3 linked regions of the Homo sapiens genome follow. The protein of the gene in region 1 interacts with the protein of each later gene in a pairwise test. Each region holds a gene or a part of one and is shown on either strand. Other genes may lie near its edges. The genes, in order: CADPS, TTLL10 and C17orf67.

Region 1 (3,500 bases):
CCAACTGTGAGTGGTGACCCTACTACATGTCCTGATGGAAACCCATGAGAGGGCCATGGGCTCCAGATTTTATTGACAACTTGGGACTGTCTTTGAGAAGCTGACTATCTTTAGCTATGGTTAGAAGCAAAGAGATGACATTGTCCACCAATTCATAGAGATTCTAACCATGACTGTGTCTGGCTTAACGGAAACAGAGATGTAGCTTCCCTTTTCTCTTTTCGAAGAGATGGAAGACTGTCTTTCTAGGGAAAGGCTGCCATAGGACTCAGCCATTTTACCCTTTCCGTCAAATAACTTCAATTATTTTTGTTGTTGTTGTTTTTGTTGTTCATCTTAAATAACCTTAATTGTATCAAGCCTAAATGATGATATCTATTTTCTTTTACAGGGCCATATTTTGAAATAAGAAAATCTGAAGAATAAAGGATATTTTTCATTCTCTTTTTAGCAAACTCAATACATTGGTAGCATTTTCTTGTCAGATTGCTATTTTTCTTCAGCATTTTGCATGCTAATTATTTTGAACATTACATTGCATTTCATTACAATGCATTTCTCATTTTACTTATAACGAGGTGCTTATAAATTTTGAAAAGAAGAAGAACAGAACTACTTGAGGATAACAATTGTTTGAAAGAAAGGCTGTGTGTGTGTATGTATGTATTGGAAGATTCTGTGGCAAAAATGGAAAAGACTGAGCAAACTAAATCTATTTACCTAAGTTAGTTTCTTGTTTTGGGGTGAGCTTGATGAGAAGTATGCCAAAAAGATCATTCTTCACTTGGAAAAAAAATCTAAGAAGAGAAATGAATCTGCTTCTTCATCAACCCACCAATAAGTAGTCAGATGGAAGTTCACACTTTATTTCTATTCACGTTGTAGGAAACATGGAGAGAGTCACTCCTCTTAGCACATAACATGTCTCCAAGCTCTTTTTTACACTCCATTTTATTCCATTCTGCAAAGCTGCCCCGTGGCATCCACACTCTGTTTAAAAATCGGCTGATACAGTGTGTGTGGTAGCTTGTATTTTAGTTAGCACTGTTTTTATTATTTATTTATTTATTTATTTATTTATTATTATTATTTTTTAATAGGGACTCACTCTGTCACCCCAGGCTGGAGTACAGTGGCAGGATCATGGCTCACTGTAACCTTGAACTCCTGGGCTCAAGCAATCCTCCCACCTCAGCCTCCTGAGTAGTTTGGACTACATGCTGTGCCACCATGCCTGGCTACTTTTTTTATTTTGTAGAGATGGAGTCTGGTTATGTTGCCCAGACTGGTCTTGAACTCCTGGCCTCAGGTGATCCTCTCGCCTTGGCCCCCCAAAGTGTTGGGATTACAAGTGTGAACAACCACACCCAGCCCTTAGTTGGCACTTTTAAAGATCTCCACAGACTCTGAAAGGCATATACTATTTAGTATGAATTGAACAAACCACAATCATATTCACTAACAGCATAATTTTAGATAGCAAAAAGCTACTAAAAAACACACACGTATCTGCATAATTCTCAGGTTATTATTCGCAACTATTATTCCTTTATTCACAATTTGCAGACCTTTAAATTGCCCATGCAAGAGTTCAAATTTTTTTTTAATTGGTAAAAATATTCCCAAGAAAACATCCCTAGACTAAGATTTCCAGGTATGAAGATGATTTTTGAGTCTATCTTTATTTCTGATGGTATTAAGAATATTTAATGCCCCCAAAGAAGTAGCAGTCATGTGTTAAACTTTTATTATTTTTTTTTTTGAGACGGCATCTCGGTCTGTCACCCAGGCTGGAGTGCAGTGGAGCGATCTCGGCTCACTGCAAGCTCCACCTCCTGGGTTCACACCATTCTCCTGCCTCAGCCTCCCGAGTAGCTGGGACTACAGGTGCCCACCACCACGCCCAGCTAATTTTTTGTATTTTTAGTAGAGACGGGGTTTCACCGTGTTAGCCAGGATGTTCTCGATCCCCTGACCTTGTGATCCACCCGCCTCGGCCTCCCAAAGTGCTGGGATTACTGGCGTGAGCCGCCGCACCCGGCCGTGTTTGACTTTTAAGAAATTTAACAGATTATAAAATGACTTAGTGACATTATCACGAAGTTCCATGACAATTCTCAGACACTGGACAGGCACATTTTTAAAACTTCAGTTTTGCAGGGGAGCAAACAAGTTCATAGAGGTTTGAACCCTTGACTTCTGGCTAGTAAATGGGCACTAAATCTAGGGCTCTTCAAGGAATAGTGAAGGATACCAATTATTCTCTTCCATGTGTGTTGGTAGTAGTAGTCTCCGTATTTAAGTGCAAGTAAGTAAATGTTATTTCAAGACCATTGTTATTTTAAAACGTAAATATTACTCATTTTAACCTTTTCCTCTTAATAGCTATTCTCCAGCACAACTGTCTTCATTGTATTGAACATTGAAAAAAAATAGAGGCTCTCAATAATTTACCATCAAGGGATCCAGTTCTACCCTCATGAGTGAAAAGTCAGTAGGGCCATATTAAGAGACTGTTATAAACTGGAGAATAACAAACTAAAATTTAAATTTCTTGGTATTTGCAAAGGAGGAGCTACTGGTTATTAACCTCCCTGCAATAGGGAAACTCCTCTTGTGGCTCAGATGTGGAAGGGGGGCAGAAAAGCCTATTTTGCATTAATTTATCAGTGAGAGCCTTATACAGTATAACATTAGAGGAGGGTCTCAGTTCAGAAAACTGCTTAAAAATAGGCTGCAAGTCAAGGCTTCCAAACTGAGGAAAGGCCTCATGAATATTTGTTCTGGAGTTCCTAAAATGTGCTTGTAACATCCCTCTACTTTGCTCCATACTGTTTGCTGCATCCCAAAGATGTAAAATACTAGCATGAACGAAATGATTTCCTTAAAAAAAGAAAGAAAGAAAGAAAGAAAGAAACTAACAAGGCAAATCCAGCAGTAGGCTTTACTGGAGCTTTTCAAACCATCAAACCATAACCATCAAACTCTCCATATAGGAGTCTCTATTTTTTCAGAAAGGGGAGTCTGAGACTGACCCTCTGGAGCCTCAAGTCAAGCCCTCTTCCCATTTGGGGAATGGAGATGGCACCAAGCCTGCCAAACATTTTCAAATAAGACCTAAAATTTGCCAAACATTTGTGGAAATTGACAAACTTGCAACCCACAAGATTTCCCATAATTTATCCTGCAGGGTATATGTCCCATTTTAAAAAAAGCACACGGTTGTCAAATACATTTAGGAAAATCCGGGTTAAACAGAGTTACACAAAATTCTAGGTCAGTGGGGTAGGTATTGTTTCCTAAACATACTTGGCCATAAAGGTTTTTTTTAAAAAGGTGCATCTAAAAGGCCTAGACCAGGCAATGGCAAACTATGGACCTGTTTTGTTAACAAAGTTTCATTGGAACACAGCTACACTCGTTCATTTACATACTGTCTATGACTGCTTTCATGCTACAATGACAGAGTTGAGTTGTGACAGAGATTATGTGGCTCCAAA
Region 2 (3,730 bases), on another chromosome or scaffold:
GGAGTTTCGCTCTTGTCACCTAGGCTGGAGTGTAATGGCGCAATCTCAGCTCACTGCAGCCTCTGCCTCCCGGGTTCAAGCGATTCTCCTGCCTCAGCCTCCCGAGTAGCTGGGATTACAGGCACCTGCCACCACGCCTGGCTAATTTTGTTTGTATTATTAGTAGAGATGGGGGTTTCACCATGTTGGCCAGGCTGGTCTTGAACTCCTGACCTCAGGTGATCCGCCTGCCAAAGTGCTGGGATTATAGGCGTGAGCCATGATGCTCAGCTGCAAAGTATTTTAAATTTCCTTTGTAAGCTTTTCTTTGACCCATTGGTTGCTTAAGGGCCTGTTATTTAATTTCCACATATTTGTGATTTTTCCAATTTTCCTTCTGTTATTGACTTCTAATTTCATTCCATTGTGTCAGAGAACATACTTTATAATTTCAACCCTTTAAAAATTATTGAAAAATTATTGGAGCTGGTGTGTTGGCACATACCTGTAATTCCAGCTACTCAGGAGGCTGAGATGGAAACATTGCTTAAGCCCAGGAGTTTGAGTCCAGCCTGGGCAACACAGCAAAACCCCATCTTTAAAAAAACAACAAACTTACTATTCATTAAGTGGATCATTAAAAAACAAAAACAAAAAACACTTGAAACTTGTTTATGTCCCAGCATATGGTCTATCCTGGAGAATATCCATGTGCACTGGAGAAGGAGGTGTATCCTGTTTTTGGGTGTAGTGTTCTGTAGATGTCTGTGCCGAGACCAGCTCGGTCGGGGAGACCCTAACCCGGCGGCGCTAGAGGAATTAAAGACACACACAGAGAAATACAGAGGTGTGAAGTGGGAAATCAGGGGCCTCACAACCTTCAGAGCTGACAGCCCTGAACAGAGATTTACCCACATATTTAGTAACAGCAAACCAGTCATAGCATTGTTTCTATAGATATTCAGTTAACTAAAAGTATCCCTTACGGGAAACGAAGGGATGGGCCAAATTAAAGGAATAGGTTGGGCTAGTTAACTGCATCAGGAACACGCCCTTAAGACACAGATCGCTCCTGCTATTGTTTGTGGCTTAAGAACGCCTTTCAGCGGTTTTCCGCCCTGGGCGGGCCAGGTGTTCCTTGCCCTCATTCCCGTCAACCCACAACCTCCCAGCGTGGGCGTTAGGGCCATTGTGAACATGTCACAGTGCTGCAGAGATTTGTTTATGGCCAGTCTTGGGGCCAGTTTATGGCCAGATTTTGGGGGGGGGCCTGCTCCCAACATGTCTGTTAGGTCTGTTTGGTTTATAATGTTGTTCGAGTCTTCTATTTACTCGTTAATCTTCTGTCTCTGTATTGAAAGCGGGATATTCAGTTGTCTACTTCTCCCTTCAGATCTGTCAGTTTTTTGTATATTTCGAGGCTCTGTTGTTGGGTGTGTGTATGTTTATGATTATTAGATCTTCTTGGTTTATCGTTATAAAAATTTTCCTTTAATCTGCAGTAATAATTTTTGTGTAAAGTCTATTTTCTGTGATATGAGTGTAGACACTCCAGTTGGTATAAGTGTAGACACTCCAGTTGATATGAATGTAGACACTCCAGTTGGTATGAGTGTAGACACTCCAGTTGGTATGAGTGTAGACACTCCAGTTCGTATCAGTGTAGACACTCCAGTTGATATCAGTGTAGACACTCCAGTTGGTATGAGTGTAGACACTCCAGTTGGTATGAGTGTAGACAATCCAGTTGATATCAGTGTAGACACTCCAATTGATATCAGTGTAGACACTCCAGTTGGTATGAGTGTAGACACTCCAGTTGGTATGAGTGTAGACACTCCAGTTCGTATCAGTGTAAACACTCCAGTTGGTATGAGTGTAGACACTCCAGTTGATATCAGTGTAGACACTCCAGTTGGTATGAGTGTAGACACTCCAGTTGTTCATATCAGTGTAGACACTCCAGTTGGTATGAGTGTAGACACTCCAGTTGGTATGAGTGTAGACACTCCAGTTGGTATGAGTGTAGACACTCCAGTTCTACTTTGGTTACCGTGTGTGGTACATCTTTTTCCATCCCTTTACTTTCCACCTATTTTTGTCTCTGAAACTAAAGTATCTTTTGTAGATGGTATATCATGTTTTTTTAAGAAACTCCGTCAATGTCTATTAATTGGAAAGTTTAATTCACTTACATTTAATATAATTACTGATAAAGGGCCGGGCACGGTGGCTCACGCCTGTAATGCCAGCCCTTTGGGAGGCCAAGGCAGGTGGATCACAAGGTCAGGGATTGAGACCATCCTGGCTAACACGGTGAAACCCCGTCTCTACTAAAAATACAAAACATTAGCCAGGCGTGGTGGTGAGCAACTGTAGTCCCAGCTGCTCGGGAGGCTGAGGCAGGAGAATGGCGTGAACCCAGGAGGCGGAGCTTGCAGTGAGCCAAGATTGCGCCATTGCACTCCAGCCTGGGTGACAGAGCGAGACTCCGTCTCAAAAAATAATAATAATAATAATTACTGATAAGGTAGGATTTACATATGCTATTTTGTTATTTGTTTTCTATGTCTGTCTTTTTTTGTTCCTCAGTTTCTCCATTACTGCCTCCTATTGTTTTAGAGAGATATTTTCTAGTGTAGCTTTTTTTTTTTGAAACGGAGTTTCGCTCTTGTTGCCCAGGCTGGAGTGCAGTGGCGTGATCTCGGCTCACTGCAGCCCCCGCCTCCCGGATTCAAGCGATTCTCCTGCCTCAGCCTCCCTAGTAGCTGGGATTACAGGCGCATGCCACCACACCCGGCTAATTTTTTGTATTTTTAGTAGAGACGGGGTTTCACTATGTTGGCCAGGCTGATCTCAAACTGCTGACCTCAGGTGATCTACCCGCCTCAGCTTCCCAGGGTGCTGGGATTACAGGCGTGAGCCACCACGCCTGGCTTAGTGTAGCATTTTAATTACCTTGTCATTTATTTTACTATATGTTTTTGAGTTATTTTAGTGGTTGTCCTGAGGATTACCATTAATATTGTATCTTAATTTACTACAATTAGGGTGAGTGTGGTGGCTTATGCCTGTAATCCCAGTGCTTTGGGAGGCTGAGGCAAGAAGATCATATGAGGCCAGGCATTTGAAAGCAGCCTGGGCAACATAGTGAGACCCCATCTCTAAAAAACAAAATTAGCTCAGCATGGGAGTGTGCACCTGTAGTCCTCCTAGCTATTTAGGGGGCTGAGATGGGAGGATCACTTGAGCCCAGGAGGTCAAGGCTGCAGTGAGCCACAATCAAACCACATTACCCCAGCCTAGGTGACAGAACAAGACCCTGTTTCTAAAATAAAAAATGTTTTAAAATAAACAATTCAGTTTTTTATTAATACCAAGTTAATTTCAAAAGCATACAAAAACACACTGCTCCTAAAAGTATACAAAAACACTCCTCCTACACAGCCCCACCCCTCTCATGCTGTTGTCACAAATTACAGCTCAGTATATTTGTGTCCATCAACATGGATTCATAATTATTGTTGTATACAGTTGTCTTTTAGGACAAAACAATCACATACAAAAAAATACATGTATGCTGTCTCTTATATTTAATTACACAATGACCTTTTCTGGGGCTCTTTATTTCCTCCTGTGAGTTCCAGTTACTGTCTAGTGTCTTTTCATTTCAGCCTGAAGGACGGTAGGGCGGGTCTACCTTTGTTTATCTGGGAATGTCTTAATCTCCCCTTCATTTTTGAAGCAGCTT
Region 3 (3,730 bases), on another chromosome or scaffold:
GTATCTTGGGTTTTATCTTGTATCTAGTAGAGAACAACTGAAGGATTTTTCAAGTTGGGGAGTACAGATCTGGGTGTTAGAGAGTTTGAGACAATGAGAGAAGGGGCCCATGATTGAAGTCTGGGATCACCAACACTCAGAGGTGGGCAGGGGAAGAGGAACCCTGAAAGGGCTGAGAAGGAATGCAGAGAGATAGAGAAGCCAAGAGAGTGGGGGTGGCAGAGCAAGGCGGGGAGGCATAGGAGGGGCTGGGGTGAAGGAAGGGCAGCATGTGCACAACTGTGATGGGGAGGAGGATGCCTGGAGGGAGGGATCCTGTTGGCGGCTGGCGGGTTGGGGGTGGGGGCTCTGGCTGGCCCCCTGTGCTTTTGGCATGATGCCTGGAGCGGCCATTCTGCAGCTCTTCCTCAGGGACCCGGCAGGGGCTGGGGGAGCTGGTTGAAGAGTCCTCAAAGCAGTGGCTCCTGCTCAAGGTGCTCGAGAGGCAGCTCTAATGACTCCCACATCTGCCCCCTGACATTTTCTGTGCCAGCATCTGCACCTGGCTCTTTTGAACTCTGTCTGTGGAATAACAGTCTTTGTCCTAACTGAGGCATTGTAGATGTGGGTGAACAGGTGGGTTTGAATTGCTGCAGCCCGTTGTTGCAACTGTTGTTGCCAGGCTAGACTCTGGCCCTAAAACCCTGTTTTGTGTGGTCCTTCCCCTGCTCAAAAACTTCTGAAAGCTTCTCCTCTGTTTGCTTTTTCCCACTTGTGGTCATCACCTCCCTTAATCCTTGACAGCCCTCTGCTTGCTTCCAACTTTGCAATTTTACTGAATATCTGGCTTTTTCTGGTTTGTTTTGCTCATCTTTTATAGGCTTGACCACCACCTGCTCCTCTTAACTGCCTCGAACCTACCTGATTAGTTTCCATGTAACTCCTTCTTGCCTCAGAACCTATTGCTGAGCCACCATCCCATCCTCCATGTCCCTCTCAGAGACACTTCATCCAATGTCCAGAATCCTCAGGCATTCAGTCCAGTTTGGAAAAGTGGTCATATGTTTTACAATTGAAATGTGAAACAAACATGCAGTCAATTATTGGGTGGCTAGTCTACACCAGTAGTTCTCATCCATAGGTGATTATGCCCCCTCATCCCCAGGGACATTTGACAATATCTGAAGACATTTTTGGTGGTTACACCTGTGTGGGGCATTGCTTTTGGCACCCAGTGGGTACAGACCAGGGATGCTGCTAAACACCCTACACAGGGCACAGGGCAGCCTCCACCACCCTCTGGCCCAAAATGTCAGTAGTGCCAAAGGAGAGGAACCAAGTCTACACATTGCCAAGTAAACTTTTTCTTGTTTACTCTCTGTCACGCTGTGTGTGTCTCTCTCTGTCTCTCTCTATAATTGCACTCACTTGAACACACACAGAATTGGTTGAATTAACAAATAGTTTCTGGTATCGTATTTTTTCTAGAAATGTGTTTCTTAACTTTGGTTACATTCTGGAACCACCTGGGGAATTTAAATTCCGATGCCTGGGTCCCACTCCCAGAGGGGTGGCCTGGGGTGGGACCTGGGTATGGGGGATGGGGCCAAAGCCCCAGTGATGCCAACCTGCAGCCGAGGCTGAGAACCACTGGGCTAGGCCATCTGGGAGAAATCAGCCACGTGTGTACCAGCTCCTGTGGTCTAGTTGGGAACATAAAAGCATTTAGAAAGCTGTTAAATGTTGAACTGGGTGGTATGGAGAGTATCTTAGTTGTTTAGACAAAAAGAGAGAGTGAGAGGGTCAAGTGGTGCGTGCTGATCAAGATGTGCACTTAATTAGATTTTATATTGACCATGCCCTACTAAGCACCAGGGACTGAGGATGAAAGATAAACCAGACATTCTTCCTTACTCAAGGTGCCCATTGTGTGGAGGTGGAGCCAGAGTGCCCCAGCCTGATTTGGGCTCACTAACGAGGTTATCTGGTACAATGGACTGCGGCTCTGCAAGAAGAGAGTCTCGAGCCCCAGCCTGATTTGGGCTCACTAACGAGGTTATCTGGTACAATGGACTGCGGCTCTGCAAGAAGAGAGTCTCGAGCTCCAACTGGAAGGAAAGGGGAGGCTGGGAAGGCTTCCCAGAGGAGGTGCCCACCCAGCTGTGGCTTGAAGGATGACCAGGAGTTCTCAGGCAGGGCAGGGGGTAGGGATGAGGCAGGAAGAATATTCCACCCAGTGCATTTCCAGTCCATATTCTGCCGCTAACTAGTTGTGGACTTTGGGTAAGTCACTTCCTCTTTTGGAAGCCTAGTTTTTTCATCTATAAAATGCAGAGTTTGGCTGGAATCTGGCCTAGATTCCAGAATGTCTAATTCCAGGTCTCATATTGTAGGGCTCTGGATAGAACCTTGGGGCTGACACAGGTTTCCTGGTGCCAGTCTGCAATGTGACAGAAGAGCCAGAGGCAGCAGGATACCAACCCAAGCGAGGAGTCAGGCAGTTTATTCTGAGGCCCCTGGAGGGGTATCCCTAGAAACCACAGGCCTCCTCACCTCATGCTGGCCCTGCGGCTGGGAGTACTCCACATCCTCGACTTACCATTTGACCCACTCACGCCTCTTGGGTCTCCTTGTTGACTTCTTCTTTTATGGATTTACTGAAAGCAAAATTAATAATGCCAGTCAGTGGCATGTAAAAAGAGGTAATTTACTGCATTTAACTGTGACTGTCAAAATGATCCTGGCCCTGCACTCCCAGTTGGAGCATAAGAGGCAGTGGCCTCAGGTTTGTCCTTGGGTGGTGAGGAGCCGATAAGCCTGGACCTCTGGCCAGGGGAGGCCAGAGGCTGGCATTAGAGCTGCCATACGGGCCCACATCTTCATAGCCTGGGAAGGAGGGAGTTCAGAGGCTAAGGCCTTTGCCTCCTGGGAGCCAGCCCTTCTGGCTCTTTGCCTTTTGCCAAGACCTCCTCACCCTCCCTGTTTCTGAGTGTAGGCCAAGAACAGCTGCGCACAGATGTCCCTTTGCTTGGGAAGAGGGTGGGATGGATGCACCATGCTGTGAATTTGGCTGCCAGTATTGTGTATGTGTGTATGTGTGTGTGAATGTGTGTGAGGGGTGTGTGTATGAGGGTATGTATGAGGGTGTGTGTGAGGGGTGTGTGTGAGGGGTTTGTGCATGTGAGGGGTTTGTGTGTGTGAGGGATGTGTGAGGGGTGTGTGTGTGAGGGTGTGTGTATTCGAATGTGAGAATTGTATGAGGGGTATGTGTGTGAGGAGTATGTGAAGGTGTGTGAGGGTGCATGAGGAGTGTGGGAGAGCGATGCATGTGTGTGAGGATGTATGTGAGGGGTGTGATGGTGTGTGTGAGAGTGTGTGTGTGAAGGGTGTGTTCAAGGAGTGTGTGTGAGGTGGGGGTGTGAGGGGTGTGCGTGAGGGGTCTGTGCAAGGAGTGTGAGGGTGTGTGTCAGAAGTGTGAGGGGTGTGTGAGGGTGTGTGTCAGAAGTGTGAGGGGTGTGTGAGGGGTGTGTGTGAGGGATGCATGTGTGAGGGTGTATGAGGGATGTCTGGGGTGTGTGTGTGAAGGGTCTGTGCAAGGATTGTGTGTGAGGTGAGTGAGGAGTATGTGTGAGGAGTATGTGTGAGGGGTGTGTGAGGGTGTGTGTAAGGGTGTGTGTAAGGGGTGTGTGTGAGAGGTGTGTGAAGGTGCAGGTGTGTGTGAGGGTGTATGTGTAAGGGGTGTGTGAGTGTG

What was found.
Region 2: the proteins of CADPS (region 1) and TTLL10 interact in a two-hybrid assay, tested with the Homo sapiens proteins (one large-scale study listed by BioGRID).
Region 3: the proteins of CADPS (region 1) and C17orf67 interact in a two-hybrid assay, tested with the Homo sapiens proteins (one large-scale study listed by BioGRID).

The regions. Positions count from the first base shown.
Region 1 is NC_000003.12:62,487,417-62,490,916, forward strand, and holds part of CADPS (calcium-dependent secretion activator 1), read right to left. Parts: intron 1-3,500.
Region 2 is NC_000001.11:1,190,848-1,194,577, forward strand, and holds part of TTLL10 (inactive polyglycylase TTLL10), read left to right. Parts: intron 1-3,730. UniProt on the Homo sapiens protein: Inactive polyglycylase.
Region 3 is NC_000017.11:56,809,823-56,813,552, reverse strand, and holds part of C17orf67 (uncharacterized protein C17orf67 precursor), read left to right. Parts: intron 1-3,730.